4 linked regions of the Homo sapiens genome follow. The protein of the gene in region 1 interacts with the protein of each later gene in a pairwise test. Each region holds a gene or a part of one and is shown on either strand. Other genes may lie near its edges.

Region 1 (4,015 bases):
TGTAAGCATCCCAGGAGCAGGGGTGCCCCAGCACCTCACCATGGAAGCCTCAGGCACACAGTGACACGCAGAGGCTGCCGCAGCGCGCGCCCTGTGCCCGGCGCCCAGGGCCTGCCACGTCACATGCCGTCCCTCTCTGGATCTCTGTCCGCCCTTGGCCTGCTGCTTGACTGGCTTTTGTTTCATCTGAATGAGAAGGGGTTTTCCGCCTCTGCCTTGCTTGACCGTCCCAGCACTTAGGATGCAAGGCTGCCTGCAGTGGAGTTCCTGGCAGAGACCCCATTTAAAGTCGCTTGTTCTGTAGTCAGCTTTTATAATCTATGCTTATTCTCATTCTGTCCTGTACTCTTCCCTTTCACCGCTCTTCAGCTTACACGGGTTCGTTTCAATACTGTCATCTCCCAGCTTCCCTTACACAAATTCTAGTGTTTGCTTTGAGACTTTAGCAGAGCCAGGGAACCTCCCGGCATGTTGGCTTTGAAGCGCCTGTTGTGTTTTGTATAATTAAAGGAAGAGGGGAGGGGGTGATAGGAAGAGGGAAGGAAAGCCCTGTCTGAGGAAGGCCCCGGAAGGGGAGACAAGGCACGGCGAATGAGTGCTCAGCGAGGGCTCCTGGGAGGGGGCTGCTGAGCGGCCGTGGGAGGAGGATGTGGGAACTGGGGACAAAGTCACCACTGCCCGTCCACACTGGCGTGGGAGCTGCCTTGCCAAGAGCAGTTGCATGAAATGCCACTTATTTGCTCAAGGGTTGTTTATTGAACATGCCAGTGCCAGGAGACTGGCGTGGAGCATGAGGCCGAGGCTGGCTGGAGTGGGTTTTGGGGAGTGTCAGGAGGCTGGTGTGGAGCGTGAGGCCGAGGCTGGCTGGAGTGCCAGGGGCTGCAGGGTCAGGTACTGGTCCAGCTTTTGGATGCTGGTGCTGTGAAGGGTGGTGGGTGAGGGAGCCAGCAGCTGAGTGGGCATGGGGAATTGCAGTTTTCCTTCTAGCCTTATTTTGGAAAATGCTAAACTTACAGGGCAATGGCAGTGGCCACCAGTGAGTGTCGGTGAGTCCTTCACCTCCACGGGGCTCCCCTCTTGGCCGTGAGTGTGCAGGCCTGGGGCATGTGCAGGCTGGCACTTCAGTCTCTGAAACCCTGCGCACTGAGGGGTCAGTCAGCTGGGCAGAGGGACCGCCAGGGCCACCCAGGGTCTGTCCTGACTGCCCACGGCCCTGTGTCTCAGCCCTGGTGCGCGTTCCCGCCCTCTTGCACGCCCGGATCTGGATGTGAATCACACAGGTGTGCGGGCATCGGGTGGATGGGCCATTTCTCCTGGGCCAGACTGAGCTCTGACCTGGGTGTGAACCTAGCAGCAGACATCCCCTGTAGGACAGTGGCCTGGAGCAGGCCCCTTGCAGGGCCTTCAAGGCAGGGCCAGCCCCTCAGACACAGCAGGGAGGCTGGTGATGACCTGGGCTCCAGGTTCTCAGCTTCATCTGGACCAACTGTGCTGTTCTATGTGAGTCCTGGGGCCCTGACCGAGTCTGGGGCTCCCTTCCTAGCAGACACTCAGACCTCGCCCAAGAGGCTTTGAGACTGACTTCCGCCCATATCCCTAGATGTTCCTACTACGGGGGATTTATTTCTCTCTGTTTCATTAGCTTCCTCTGTCCCTTTAGCCACGAGCCCAGCCCAGGTCTTCCTGCTGTGGGTCCCAGCTCTGAAAGTCACGTTGAATCATGGCCATGTTAGGAACTGGAGAAACCTAGGGCTCAGGGTACAGAGTTTCACTAGTTGGGCTTCTGTGTTGGGGCCTCCGTGGGCTGGCTTTGTGGCTTCAGGAGTCCTTGACGCTTGTTCTCAATGTGGGGGTGATATTGACCCTGAGAGGGCACAAGGGGTTCTTGGGGGAGGAAACTTCTGGGGTTTGGCGGCCGTGTGTGCCTCCCCAGCACAGCTCCTGGATTTCTTGCTCCTTAGTATTTCATTGTCCCTGGGTTTTCTGGGTGTCCCAGCACATGGATACGGAGTTCTCGGAAGCCCGCGACACATGTGCGATCTCAGACCTGCTGTGAGGTGGGTGGGGAGGGTGGGCAGGCGCCTGCGGATGCCGTTTGTGTGGGATCCTCAGTGCTGGTGTGAGACTCTGGCTTGGAGAATTGAATGAGAATCGTCGACATTTTGTGATTTAATTCCACAGAACGTATTTAGCCCATCGCTAATGATGTCAGTTTGCTGAAAGAATACCAGCCAGCCAGTTAAAAGGTACTTTCTCACATCAAGCAAAAGCTTCAGTTCACTAAGGATATTTTTTATTGTGTTTATATAAGTTGTTTATTTCTACGTGTGATTTGATACATTACAATTTATGTAAATAAATTACACTCAGCGCTGCTCAGCGCATAGTCATGAAGTGCTAGAAGCATTTTAGTTTTTAATTGAACTTCGTTCGACTTAGTTATGCTAACCTGGCGTTAGCGCTGAGACTCGTTGAGCCTTGCTTGCAGTGTTTACATGCCAAGTGCAGGTGCATGCGTGGCACACAGACACAAACAGCACCTCCACAGCCTCGCAGCGTCATGGGGTGGGAACGGTGAGAAGGTTTAAAAAGGCTCCGCAGGGGGCCAGTCATGGAAGTGGCCAGGAAACCCTGGTCTCCTGCCGCCTGCGTGTGGCCAGCCGTGCTTCAGGGGCGACTGTGGTGCGGCTCCTTGGGGTGATGTCTCCTGGCAGGCGTGAGGCCAGGACTGCATGTGTTCAGGACTCCACGTCCTGGGCTGAGCTGGGCTCTTCCGGGGCTCTGTCAAGGCAGAAAGTGTGGCCCAAGGAAGCAGCGGCACTCTCAGTCGGAAACGTATTCCTAACAGGTGTCGGGCAGAAAGTGTGGCCCAAGGAAGCAGCGGCTCTCTCCGTTGGAGACGTGTCACCAACAGGAATATTCACAGTGGGTGTTTAATTTGTGTGCTTAAAAAGAAAAATTAGCTTTGGATTGACTACACACATTGCATGACAAAAAAGAAGAATTAAGACTTTATTTCTGTGCCAAAACTAAAACTTAGACTTGAAGAGAAATTGTTTTAAATAGAAGTGAATGTTGGAGACCTCTTTTCTTTCGTGTGGAAAGGTACGCTGCAGTGGTTTAGAGCTCTGGCGTCAGTGAGGGAGGAATGGTCGTCAGTCACAGGCTTGCGTCGTGATCCTCTGAGAGCGGCACATGGGGGAGGAGAATCAGCAATTCCAAGAAATTTGAAGTTACATTTTAAAACTATATTTAAAACAGACTAATATTTATAAAAGTAGCTTTTATTTTCAGAGAAGATAAAATGCTGTGAGCTCTGTGGGATGAGAGCCCTACCCTGTCCTTTTTATTTTAAAAGTAATTCACGAATGTTTTTAAAAAGTTTCTAAAAATAACTAGCAGGATATAAAAGTATAAATAAATTGAAATAGAATCTTCCCTGCCTGTTTCCCTCGAGTTCCATTCCTGAATGCTCCTCCAGAGTTGGTGTCGACAGAGGCCTCCTTATGGCTCCCTGCAGCAGGTCGTGCCGCACCTCCGCCTCCGCCTCCGTCCCCCGAGTCTCCATGTGTTCGCGGCAGGGACCGCCGGCTCCTGGTGAGGCCGCGTGGCGATGCGCTGGGTGGATGTGCCTGGCTGGTGGACGGGGCGTTTTGACGGCACAGGTGACGCAGCCTCAGGCATCCTGTGCTCACGTGCCCGAGTGAGCATTGACAGGGGACTGGCTCCTGAAGTGGAATTGTTGGCCTTCACACGGGCATTTAGACTTGTTAGTGTTGAACTCAGTATGTGCATCTTGTACATGGAAGCAAAATTCTAGAAAAATATCCATTATGTATCGGGAGTAATCATTTTTGTTTTCATATTTCCAAGCCTTTGAACCAGGGTAAAGCATATATTTTTATGTGACCATTGAAATAGTTCCTCCATCATCATATGGCAAAAATAAATTTTAGGATTAGCACTGAATTTAAAAAATAAATTCAAAATAGACATTTACTGAAGGACCGAGTGT
Region 2 (4,015 bases), on another chromosome or scaffold:
CCTGGGTGGGATCCATGGTCCATGTAGCTATCTTTGGTTGGGGCTTGCAGGAGGCCAAGCTTCTACCTGGTCCTAGTCCCATCTGCAAAAGTGAGCAAGGGGTGGACCAGGCCTTCCAGCTCTCCATGATAGTAATGTCTGGGGGCTTGGGGTGGCCAGGAAGTCCCAGGTGCCCAGGCCTGTCCTACAAGGCAGTTCTGTGACTGGGATAGGAGGCCCTCCACTCCCCAGTTTCTGGCTCCTGGGAGAATGGGGTGCTGACCGTTAAGCTGAGGCTGTGTGAATATCACAGAAACCTGGACAGTGAGAGCCAAGAGGGACTGTAGCCGTCACCTTGTACAAGAGTTTTTCATTTGGCTTCCTGGAACCACAGGGCAGCTGCATCTTCATCTGTTTTACATCCTGGGAATCTCAGCAAGAGAAAATTCAACAAAAGCGTTCTTTGCCTAAAACTTTGAAAACCACTGATGTGATCAGGGACCTTATTTTAGAGATGAAGCTAAAGAGGCCAGAGAAGACAATGACTTGCTCAAGGTCACAGCCCACAAGACACAATAGATTTGAGAAGCAGAGTCCAGGCCTGCAACTCTGGAGCCAGGACGGTGCCCCAAGCAGCCTGGGCAGTGTGTGGGCAGGACCTAGGGTCTCATGATGAAGGAGGGAGACTTCTGGGGAATGGGACCTGTGACGGGGCTCTTGGGCCAGTGGGTGGAGGGTGACTCAGACCAGTTGACCCTCAAGACCAAGCTGAGCTCCCCAGCTCGTCTACCTGCAGGTACCTGGGCCAGCTGGACGACAGTGAGTTTGAGAGAGCCCTGCAGAAGCTGCAGCTGACCAGGAGCATCTGGACCATCGACCTGGCCTACCTGATGCACCACTTTGGCGTGAGGCACCGCTTCTGTACCCAGACCCTGGGTGTCGACAAGGGCTACAAGAACCAGGTGAGCGACCAGCCACCAGGCCTTCCCATGTGGGGCCACACAGAGGTATAAGGCCACCTGGTTCCAGTAGTTGGAAGAGGGAACAGTCAAGGGCTAGACACCCAGGTAGATACCCAGGTGTGCAGAGACCAGGGAGCAGCAGCAGAGAGGCTATAGGCAGGATTTGGGAGCCAGTCAGAGCAGGTGCCCTTGCAGTCGGGCCTGCCCAGAGGATCTGAGTACTGAGTCCTGGCTCCTGTCCACCTGCCTTCTACAGCCCTCAGAATGTGCAGAGGCCACTTCCTACGTTCTTTCCTACTGTCCTCAGCACAAGGCAGGCCCAGGGCCTCTGAGAACATCACTGACCTCATCCGGCCATCATTTGCACATTTTTTTACTTTTCACCAGGAGAGCCAGCTTTTAAGCTATATAATTGGTAGTCTAGAAGAAAACCAAAATACCATCTTTTCTTTTTTTTGCCTTTTGAAAAATAATGCCAACATAGCCATGCCAGCAAAGTGTGTTCCGTGGACGACACCTAGCTAAGCCAAGCTGTAGCTGAGCTGTCCCAGGTGGTTCAGCCTCATCCCCCTTGCTTATTCGCTACGGGCTCCTGCTCATGCCTGCCAGAGTGTACAAGCCCAAGGGTGATCGATCCTCCCCAGAGAGCTGACCTGAGCCCAGCTGCCCACCCCTCTCTCAAGCATCATCCTCATGCCTCTGTGTGGTCCTGCTTCCCTGCTCCTGCTTAGGACAGACAGCTTTCTGATCTGGCTTGCTGCATGTACCGTCTGCCCTGGCAGGTGGGGCTCCTCTGCCCTCCTGCTGTCTCTGCCTCTGTAACACGCTCTTTATTTCCTTCATCTAAATGGAGTGAAGGCAGCCTGGGTGGTGGCCACTCCATCCCCCTCTTCTCTGTTCAGTCCTTCTACAGGAAGCACTTTGACACAGAAGAGACCCGGGTGAATCAGCTGTTTGCACAAGCAAAGGCCTGCAAGGTGCTGGTGGAGAAATGGTGAGCCCCCCAACTTTCCTACCTGCCCTTCCTCTCATGCCTGCTCACCCACAGATCTGCAGTGGGGAGGCCTCGGGATGGTGTTCAGGAAAGGCTAGGACTCTGGAGCCAGGCAGAACTGGCTACCCGGGTGGCTGTGGGCACTGACTTGCCCCCTTGAGCCTTGGTTTATGGAGCTCACTGGGGCTACATGACCCAGGCTCTGACCAGGGGTGGATCCTGAGCAGGTGCTGGAGGGATAGGTGAGTGAGAGAGATTGCACCCAGCCCTTGGGCTACTTGCAGAAAGACAGCATGGGACAGAACACAAGGCCCCTAATGAAAGGGCGATGGCCTAAGAGGAATGTGCTGGTGCAGTGATTGACAAGGGATGGGGAACAGGGAGGACCCAGTGTGTAAGGGCTGCTGTGACCTTACAAGGGCCTCCTCTTCTCATCTGTATGCATTGGGGCTGGATTCAGGAAGACTCTGGGTGCAGTTTGCCCAGATGTGGGTCACATTCTTTTCTGGGCTACGTGGGAGTGGGGCTCAGACCTGCTGCCTCTAGGTCCTGGACAGGCTCTTCTCAGATTTTCCCTTTCTTTGCGGATTTATATTTTCATTATTGACGTAGTATAATCACATGATAGGTGATTTAGAAAATGGGGGTTTGGGGGCCGGGCGCGGTGGCTCACGCCTGTAATCCCAGCACTTTGGGAGGCTGAGGTGGGCGGATCACGAGGTCAGGAGATCGAGACCATCCTGGCTAACACGGTGAAACCTTGTCTCTACTAAAAATACAAAAAATTAGTCGGGCGTGGTGGCAGGCGCCTGTAGTCCCAGCTACTCGGGAGGCTGAGGCAGGAGAATGGCCTGAACCCAGGAGGCGGAGCTTGCAGTGAGCCGAGATAGTGCCACTGCACTCCGGCCTGGGGGACAGAGCGAGACTCTGTCTGAATCTGCCCTCAAGGAAACAGAAAGGCAAATCCAGGATGTGGGACATTTTCCAAGAGTACTGCCCCGGGCTTTAAAAATCAACAAAACAGGCCGGGCACGGTGGCTCACGCTTGTAATCCCAGCACTTTGGGAGGCCGAGGCGGGCGGATCACGAGGTTAGGAGATCGAGATCATGGTGAAACCCCGTCTCTACTAAAAATACAAAAAATTAGCTGGGCGCAGTGGCGGGTGCCTGTAGTCCCAGCTACTCGGGAGGCTGAGGCAGGAGAATGGCATGAACCCAGGAGGCGGAGCTTGCAGTGAGCCGAGATCGCGCCACTGCACTCCAGCCTGGGCAACAGAGACAGACTCTGTCTCAAAAAAAAAAAGAATATAGTGGGGTGGGATCTCCATTCATACTATGACCACATGGGCACATGTTGGAAGGAAAGGCAGCAAATGTTTATTTAGCAGCCCTCAACAGGTGCTGTCTCCTTGAGTGGGAAAGCTGTTGCTATCTCTGCTTCTCGGGGGAGGAAACTGAGGAGGAGAGAGACACCCAAGGTCACCCCCAGCATCTTGGCCATGCCATGATCTGAACCCATGCTTGTTATTCCTTGAAGCCTGTAGTTTTTCCTTCCAGCCAAGCCCCTGCTTTTTCCCTATAGCTGAAATCCCACTCCTGTGCACTGCCACTGGGAACTCAGCCAGCTATTTTGTTTCAAAGACCAAATGGAAAAATGGCATGTTTCCTTGGCCAAGGCAGCAATCCAAACTGCCACGTGACTCAGCTGTGGCTGAAGCTGGGTCAGGCCACATGGTACTGATGCTGCCACTCCTAAGGAAGGCCCCAAGTGGGTGAGCAGCCCCTCCAGCAAAGATGCAGGAGCCCCTGGCCTAGAGCTCCCCCTGCCCACAGCCCCATCTGCCCTCTGTCCCTCTGGGTGTTTTCTTTTCTTTTCTTTTTTTTTTTTTTAAGAGACAGGGTCTTAATCTGTCATACAGGCTGTAGTGCTGTGGCGCAATATTGCAATACAGCTCACTGCTACAGCCCCAGGCTTAAGTGATCTTCTTGCCTCAGTCTCCCGAGTAGCTGGAACCACAATCTCATACCACCACGCCCCACGCCTGGTAAATTTTTAAATGTTTTTGTAAAGACAGGGTAC
Region 3 (4,015 bases), on another chromosome or scaffold:
ATCCTGAGGATGAGGGGATGAAAACATACCGGGCTATCTTCTGTCTGTGTTGTCCCATTTTATTCCTCTGATTTTTCTGCTCCAAATTGAGGGGCAACATACAGTATGATTGTCAGTTAAAAAAATTTAAACAGGAGATACAAAAGGGTTTTGTTATTAGTTTCCTTAGAGATCAAATTGATTTAACATAAAAATTCACCGTTTTGCAAGTGAACAACTCATTTGGCATTTAGTGCATTCACATTGTGTAACCACTACCTCTGTGTTGTTCCAGAACATTTTCATCATCCCAAAAGGAAACTATGTACCCATTAAGCAGTTACTGCCCCCTACCCCTACCCGCTAACCCTTGATAACTGCCAGTCTGCTTTTGGTGTCTGTGGATTTACCTATTCTGGATATTCATATAAATGGAATCTTTACATATCTGTGAGCTTTTATGTTGGGTGTGATTGTCTTTTAATTGCTTGTATGCCTTTGGAACAGTCTTAAAATCATTTTTTTTTTTTTTTTTTTTTTTTTCAGGGAGTAGTGTACTATGAATACTTGGACTACAAGGTGGTGTTATAGTACATGTAGGTTTATAGATGAAAATGAACTAGACTTCATTGTGACGGTTCTTAACCTCACAGTGAAGGTCACTAAACCTCACTAAAGGTCATAGAATCCTTTAGGAATCAGGGCTTCATTTCAACCCCCGGTTGCTTCAAGTCAGTGGATCTCAGGATAAGAACACCTGATTTGAAATATTTTCTTTCCTTGAAACACACAAGTTAGATGAATCAACATGTTTGTCTTTATGACATTATTTCTTCTTGGTCCTGCCTTTTTCTACATATCCTTACTACTTTTGACTAGACGACTAGCCATCCTTGTACCTCTTTGCATTTTATTTATTTTTTTGAGACAGGGTCGCGAGGCTGGAGTGCAGTGCTGCAATCATGGCTCACTGCAGCCTTGACTTCCTAAGCTCAAGCCATCCGCCCACCTCAGCCTCCTGGGTAGCTGGGACTACAGGCGCATACCACCACGCCTGGCAAATTTTTGTATTTTTTTTGGAGAGACGGGGTTTTACCTTGTTACCCAGGCTGGCATCTTATTCCTGTGCTCAAGTGATCCACCCACCTCAGCCTCCCAGAGTGCCAGGATTACAGGGGTAAGCCACTGGGTCCGGCCCATCTCTTTGCATTTTAATCACTGAGTTCAATTTAAAAGTGGAACAAGGCCAGGCACAGTGGCTCAGGTCTGTTAATCCCAGCACTTTGGGAGATTGAGTTGGGCGGGTCACCTGAGGTCGGGAGTTCGAGACCAGCCTGACCAACATGAAGAAACCCCGTCTCTACTAAAAATACAAAATTAGCCGGGCATGGTGGCACATGCCTGTAGTCCCAGCTACCTGGGAGGCTGAGGCAGGAGAATCGCTTGAACCTGGGAGGTGGAGGTTGCAGTGAGCCAAGACTGCACCATTGCACTGCAGCCTGGGCAACAAGAGCAAAACCCTGTCTCAAAAAAAAAAAAAAAAAGAAAAGAAAAGTGGAACAAAAACTTCTACCAATAGGACCAGTATTGGATTTGACGTTGTTTTATTTATAAAATGATTTGTCATTAAGTTGCTGTTTCTACCTGCAAAGTTTCTAGATTCTTAGGGGCAAGGGTTGATTGTATTTGGTTCTTGGTAATGTGGACTATGTCTTTCCTATTGGCAAATAATTTTTACTATTAACTCTACAATGTCATTCTGAACTGTTATACGTAAGGTTATAATTATAGGCCTGTTTCTATGGGATAGCCATATTCTGATGTGTAAACATAACTGAAATATGTTAAATACTTTTTTTAAACTTGTTTACATTGTGTTGGGTTAATTTAAAAAAAGGCTTGAGCAGTAAGACTAACAGAAGTTCACATGTACTCAAAATTAATCTTTACGTCCCTTTTCTGCCTGCCTTATGTTCCCCAGATTTCATTAGATACAGTGTATTTTGGGTTATTGATGTTAAGTGTTTTTTAAAAAATACATCTCTAAAGTAGTATATACACTGAGTATAAAATGTGAGACTTTTCCATTTAAAGTTGGAAAAAAATTGCAACCTCAGGTCAGCTTTGTAGCTGATAAACTAGGAATGAGGAAGATTCAGTTGTTGAGAGGGCAGATGTCAACTAACACATCAGCAGTATCGAGCAAACATATTGACATAGCTGTTGGGTGTTAAGTTTCACATAAGTCATATTATCTTATGTGGTGAGAGGATGTTGGGGACAGCTGTGCCAAAACCTGATATCAGTAGTAGAGCCTGAGGTTGAGAACCAGGGTGGTAAAGGTAGAGGTGTGAATGTAAATGTACAGTTGTCTCTGGAATGTCTGCAGTTGGTACTAGATGTTTTTAGGTACATCAGGTTTTTAGGGCGGTCATGTGAGCACTCACCATAGACTGCTTTTCTCACTGGGTAGACAATAATGTATCTAGAGAATAGAGCAGCACTACCTAATGCCCTGCTTTTGTTCTGCTATTGTATTGAATCAGTTGCCTTATGAAATTGCACTTCAATTTGTGTACATAGATACGTCCTTAAAAAGACACAGGGTTAGATAAGAACACCATATTAAATCTGTGCTGTAATGTGTATTCCTGAATCCTAGACTCATATATCCAGCTGCCTATTCAGCATCTTTCCTGGAGTGTTTAAAAACTCAAGCTCATTTCAAGCTCAGTAATGCTAAAACAGAACTGATCTCTCCTTCAAATCTATTTTTTCCCAGGCTCTCATCTTGGTTGATGGCAAATTTCTCATTCCATTGCTTGTGCCAAAAGCCTTGGCCCTCCTTGATTCTTCTTTCTCTTATGCCCCACTTCTATTTCTGAGAAGATTCTTTGGCTCTACCTTCAAAATATATCTGTACTCTGACCACTTCTCACTATTCTTGTCCAAACCATGATCTACCCTTGCCTTTGCCCTCCGTACAATCTGCTGTCATCAGAGGAGCTAATTCTTCTCAGAACCCTCTAGTGATCACCTGTTTTACTTGGATTAAAAGCCAGAGTCCCTCAAAAACTCTACAAGGCCATCTACATGCTCTGTATTGCACACTTCAGCTTCCCTCCATATACTTTTGACCCTTGAATAACACAGGTCTGAACTGTGCGCGTCCACTTATACGTGAGTTTTCTACCAGCTCTGCCACCCCTGAGACAGCAAGAATAATGCCTCTTCTTCCTCCTCCCCCTCCTCAGCCTACTCAAGGTGAAGATGATGATGATGAAGACCTTTATGATGAGCCACTTTGACTTAATGAGTTGGTAAATGTATTTTCTCTTCCTTATGATTTTCTTAATAACATTTTCTTTTCTCTAATGTATTACAAGAATACAGTGTATAATACATATACAAATATGTGTTCGACTGTTTATGCTATTAGTAAGGCTTCCGGTCAACAGTAGGCTATCAGTATTTTGGGGGGAGTTAAAAGTTATACATGGATTTTCTACTGTGTGGGAGATTGGTCCCCCTAATCTCCATGTTGTTCAAGGGCCAAATATAGTTTATCTCTGAACTAATCTGTTTTCCACCTTTTCCATTTCATTCCAGCCACTCTTGCCACCTTTTTTTTTTTTCCTATAAATAAGCCTCAAGCCTTTTACTTGCTGTTTGCTCTGCCTGGATTGCTCTCCACCTTCGCTTCTTTTCTCATGTATTGCCTTCTCAATGAGGTCCTCCATGACTGCCGTATCTAAAATTTCATCCCTGTCCATTATCCCTCCCCACAGCATTAATTTTCTTCATAACACTTCTAATATGCTTCATCATCTTGTTTATTATTTGTCTCTCTCTACTCTAGAATTTAAGCTTCCTGAGGGCCAGTAATTTTATGTTTTGTTCAAAGCTGTATCTTAGTATGTACAACAGTGCCTGCTACATACATACTAGGCACTCAGGTATTTTTATATCAATGAACGAATGAATATTTTTGGGAACTAGGGTCTGGGCAAACCTTTATCCTACTCCTCCTATGAAT
Region 4 (2,818 bases), on another chromosome or scaffold:
GTGATCTGGGCTGCTGCCTGATCCCCTGCCTCATCAATGACTTCAAGGATGTGACGCACACATGCCCCAGCTGCAAAGCCTACATCTACACGTACAAGCGCCTGTGCTAACGGAGCTGGGACTCGGGACTCCCCCGCCTGTCAGTCTGGCCCCCTGTGCTTTGCTCCCTGTGCTCAGTGGTCACTTTCCCGCTCCCACTTGGGGCTGGGAGCCGTGCCACCATCCCCTAGAAGTCCTGTCCTCTTCACCCTGCCCTACCTGAGCCGCTGACTCTTCTGGCAAAAATTCTGTTGGGATTTAAGGCCAAGGGTCAGTGGGTGGCAGGGGGCTGACAATGAGCTTGTGTGTTGTTGGTCTGCTTGGTGTGTGTGATCGGGAAGATAAGCTGGGAGGGGTCTCCTGCTGGGGTCCTGATGCCTCTGTTTCCAAACAAGGTACAGGTTCAGTCCAGACTCTTTCCCCCTGGGACCAACAGCAGCCAGAGCAGTTAGCCAGTTAGTCCCCAGGCCTGTGGCCACAGGCGTTTCTGACCTGCTGGGCCGAGAATGGGTAAGTTGTCTGGAGTCAGGTGGGCCCACGTAGGACAGGGTCACAAAGCCTGGGTTTGTTTCTGGGTACTTTGCGCCTCTGGGGTGCTAGAGGTGGGGCATGGTGGCTGGAAGTAAAACTGCCAACTCTGGCCCTCAGAACTCTCAGGTATAGAAGCCCAGGATGTCTAATACCCTGTCCCAGTGCCCGAGAGCTGCCTGGTGTCAGGTAGAGAGGACACTGTACCTGGGTGAATGATCAGACCCTGGTAGCTAAGAAGGAACTTGTCCCTTTGAGTCAGTGTGCAGACCCCCTTTCAGGCCATGCCTCTGTGAACCCTGTATTGCTGGGGCCGGAAGGAGCCCCTGAGCCTAGCCCCTTCCCGTCTGCCCTGTGTCCTCACTGCGTGTGGGTATGACCTCTGCCTGGTGGCTGGTGTATCCCAACTGGGCAAGAGATGGCAGAGGGTCCCCCTTGTGGGTGCGCTTGGATGTGCAGAGCCTTCTCCATGGATTTTCTTCCCTGTAAGTGCCGGGCCCCTCACCCCAGCTGACAGGCTGTTGCTGTGCCTGCTCACACCTGCTCCTGCAGGCACACTGGGCTAGGGACGAGGAAGGAGCAGCCACAAGTGGTAGAACTGCCTTGGTGGACACCAGCCTCGCCCTGTCTTTATTTCCTGAATGGTTTGTGAACTTGCTCACCTGGACCACTGTATCCTGCCACTGTCCTTCCTGGTCTCGCACTGCCACTGCATGGCCTCCTGTCACTGTGAATCGTGGCCCAGTCTCAGTTTGTAGTTTCTCATTAAATTGGCCCTTTCACTCCCCCGCCCTGGGCCTCTGCTCTCTTGCCTGGCTTCCTTCTTTTTTGAGGGAAAGAGGGTGGGGCTGCAGGCAGTCTACTGGCAGGACGGGAGGCTGAGTCCTCAGGGTCTCACACCCTCAGTGCTGATGCCATGCCAACTGCCTGGGACAACACCAACACGTAAGGACCTAATTAAACCAAACCAGAGTCGGGTGTAGACCAGCCCTGGGATTTCCAGCTGTGACTGGGCCAGGGCACACGTTGGTCTCGGCAGTGGCTGTAAGGTCACCTTCCTTCCTCTGATGCTGGTTTCAACCATCTATATATGGCATCCACGCATGGGATCTGCAAGCTGGAGCCCTCCTACCCGCAGGCTTGAGCACAGCATCATCCAGCCCTGGGGAGGCGCACCCTTAAGCAACACAGACTGGGCTGAGGCTGACAGGCAGAAGACTAACAGAGCGCAGTCTGCACACGCAGGTTCTGGGCGACCTCTGGCCCTGGCCATCTCTGCACTAACTCATCTGAATTATGAAGGTGGCAGTCTTGGTCAGTAGTTTAAAGAGTTTCCCTACTTTTTAACCCTTTTTGAAATAAAACTTTTACAGGTAGTAGATTCCTATTAATAAAATTATTTAAGTTCATGTTTCTCTTTTAGAGAATGAATTGTTTAAATACAAATATGTGCTTTTTTAAAACCCTTATTTTTAAATATATATATATATTTTAAAAAAACCTTTTAAGTAGGAAACCTCTAAGGTATTTCTGAGCTAAAAAATAGCAGTGCTGGATACACTTTAAAGATCTTTGCAAGACGGTTAGAGTGACTTTGCTTTGGAGACTAGAGGTGCTGGAGAGTAGACCCAGAGCAGGAGGTGGCTGCTGGGAGCCATGATGGACGATGTCCACTCCCCACACAGACATAACATGCCCTTGCTTCTGAGGGACTCTCCTATGGGGAGGTGGCTTGACCCACCCGGTGCCAGGAGGCAGGGAAGGAGGTAGCTTGCAAAGCCCACTTTATTGAGTGCTGGAGCATTTACACAGCGCGGAGGAGGAGATAAGCTGGGGCTGAGCAAACCGCACCCAAGGGGTTAGAGGGATTCTGGGTGAGAGGGATGAGCTCCCAAGGCCTCTGAGGCTTCCACCCACACCCACCCTCACTCCCAGGGTCCAAGAGAGGCCCAGAAGTTGTACAGCAGCATCCAGCAAGGCCCCCTCGCACAGCTTGGACTTACAGGCCACTCACCTCCAACAGGGGAGATAGTCACCCATGTACTGCAAAAACAGGGACTACCGGAAGCAGCCTAGGGCCCAGAAGTGTGGAAGCCTGGAGTAGAGCTGGGTCGGGGGCCAGGCTTGCTGCACTGTGCCGACTGCTCCCAGGGTGACGGCCTGTGCCCAGTGCGGAATATGGCCCATAGAGAGGATGCTGTCAGGCAGAGGCTCTAGCATCTGGCTTTTATTGGTTGCCTTTCTTAAACCC

Evidence for each region.
Region 2: the proteins of TOLLIP (region 1) and GUCD1 interact in binary tests that used the Homo sapiens proteins (3 or more experiments, as listed by UniProt).
Region 3: the proteins of TOLLIP (region 1) and ZRANB1 interact in binary tests that used the Homo sapiens proteins (3 or more experiments, as listed by UniProt).
Region 4: the proteins of TOLLIP (region 1) and CDIP1 interact in binary tests that used the Homo sapiens proteins (3 or more experiments, as listed by UniProt).

Annotation. Positions count from the first base shown.
Region 1 is NC_000011.10:1,299,460-1,303,474, reverse strand, and holds part of TOLLIP (toll-interacting protein), read left to right. Parts: intron 1-684; exon of another isoform or gene 685-891; intron 892-3,462; exon of another isoform or gene 3,463-3,597; intron 3,598-4,015. UniProt on the Homo sapiens protein: Component of the signaling pathway of IL-1 and Toll-like receptors. Inhibits cell activation by microbial products. Recruits IRAK1 to the IL-1 receptor complex. Inhibits IRAK1 phosphorylation and kinase activity.
Region 2 is NC_000022.11:24,544,834-24,548,848, reverse strand, and holds part of GUCD1 (protein GUCD1), read left to right. Parts: intron 1-775; coding exon 776-941; intron 942-1,843; coding exon 1,844-1,935; intron 1,936-4,015.
Region 3 is NC_000010.11:124,944,913-124,948,927, forward strand, and holds part of ZRANB1 (ubiquitin thioesterase ZRANB1), read left to right. Parts: intron 1-4,015. UniProt on the Homo sapiens protein: Ubiquitin thioesterase, which specifically hydrolyzes 'Lys-29'-linked and 'Lys-33'-linked diubiquitin. Also cleaves 'Lys-63'-linked chains, but with 40-fold less efficiency compared to 'Lys-29'-linked ones.
Region 4 is NC_000016.10:4,509,864-4,512,681, reverse strand, and holds the end of CDIP1 (cell death-inducing p53-target protein 1), read left to right. Parts: coding exon 1-110; 3' UTR 111-2,013; downstream 2,014-2,818. UniProt on the Homo sapiens protein: Acts as an important p53/TP53-apoptotic effector. Regulates TNF-alpha-mediated apoptosis in a p53/TP53-dependent manner.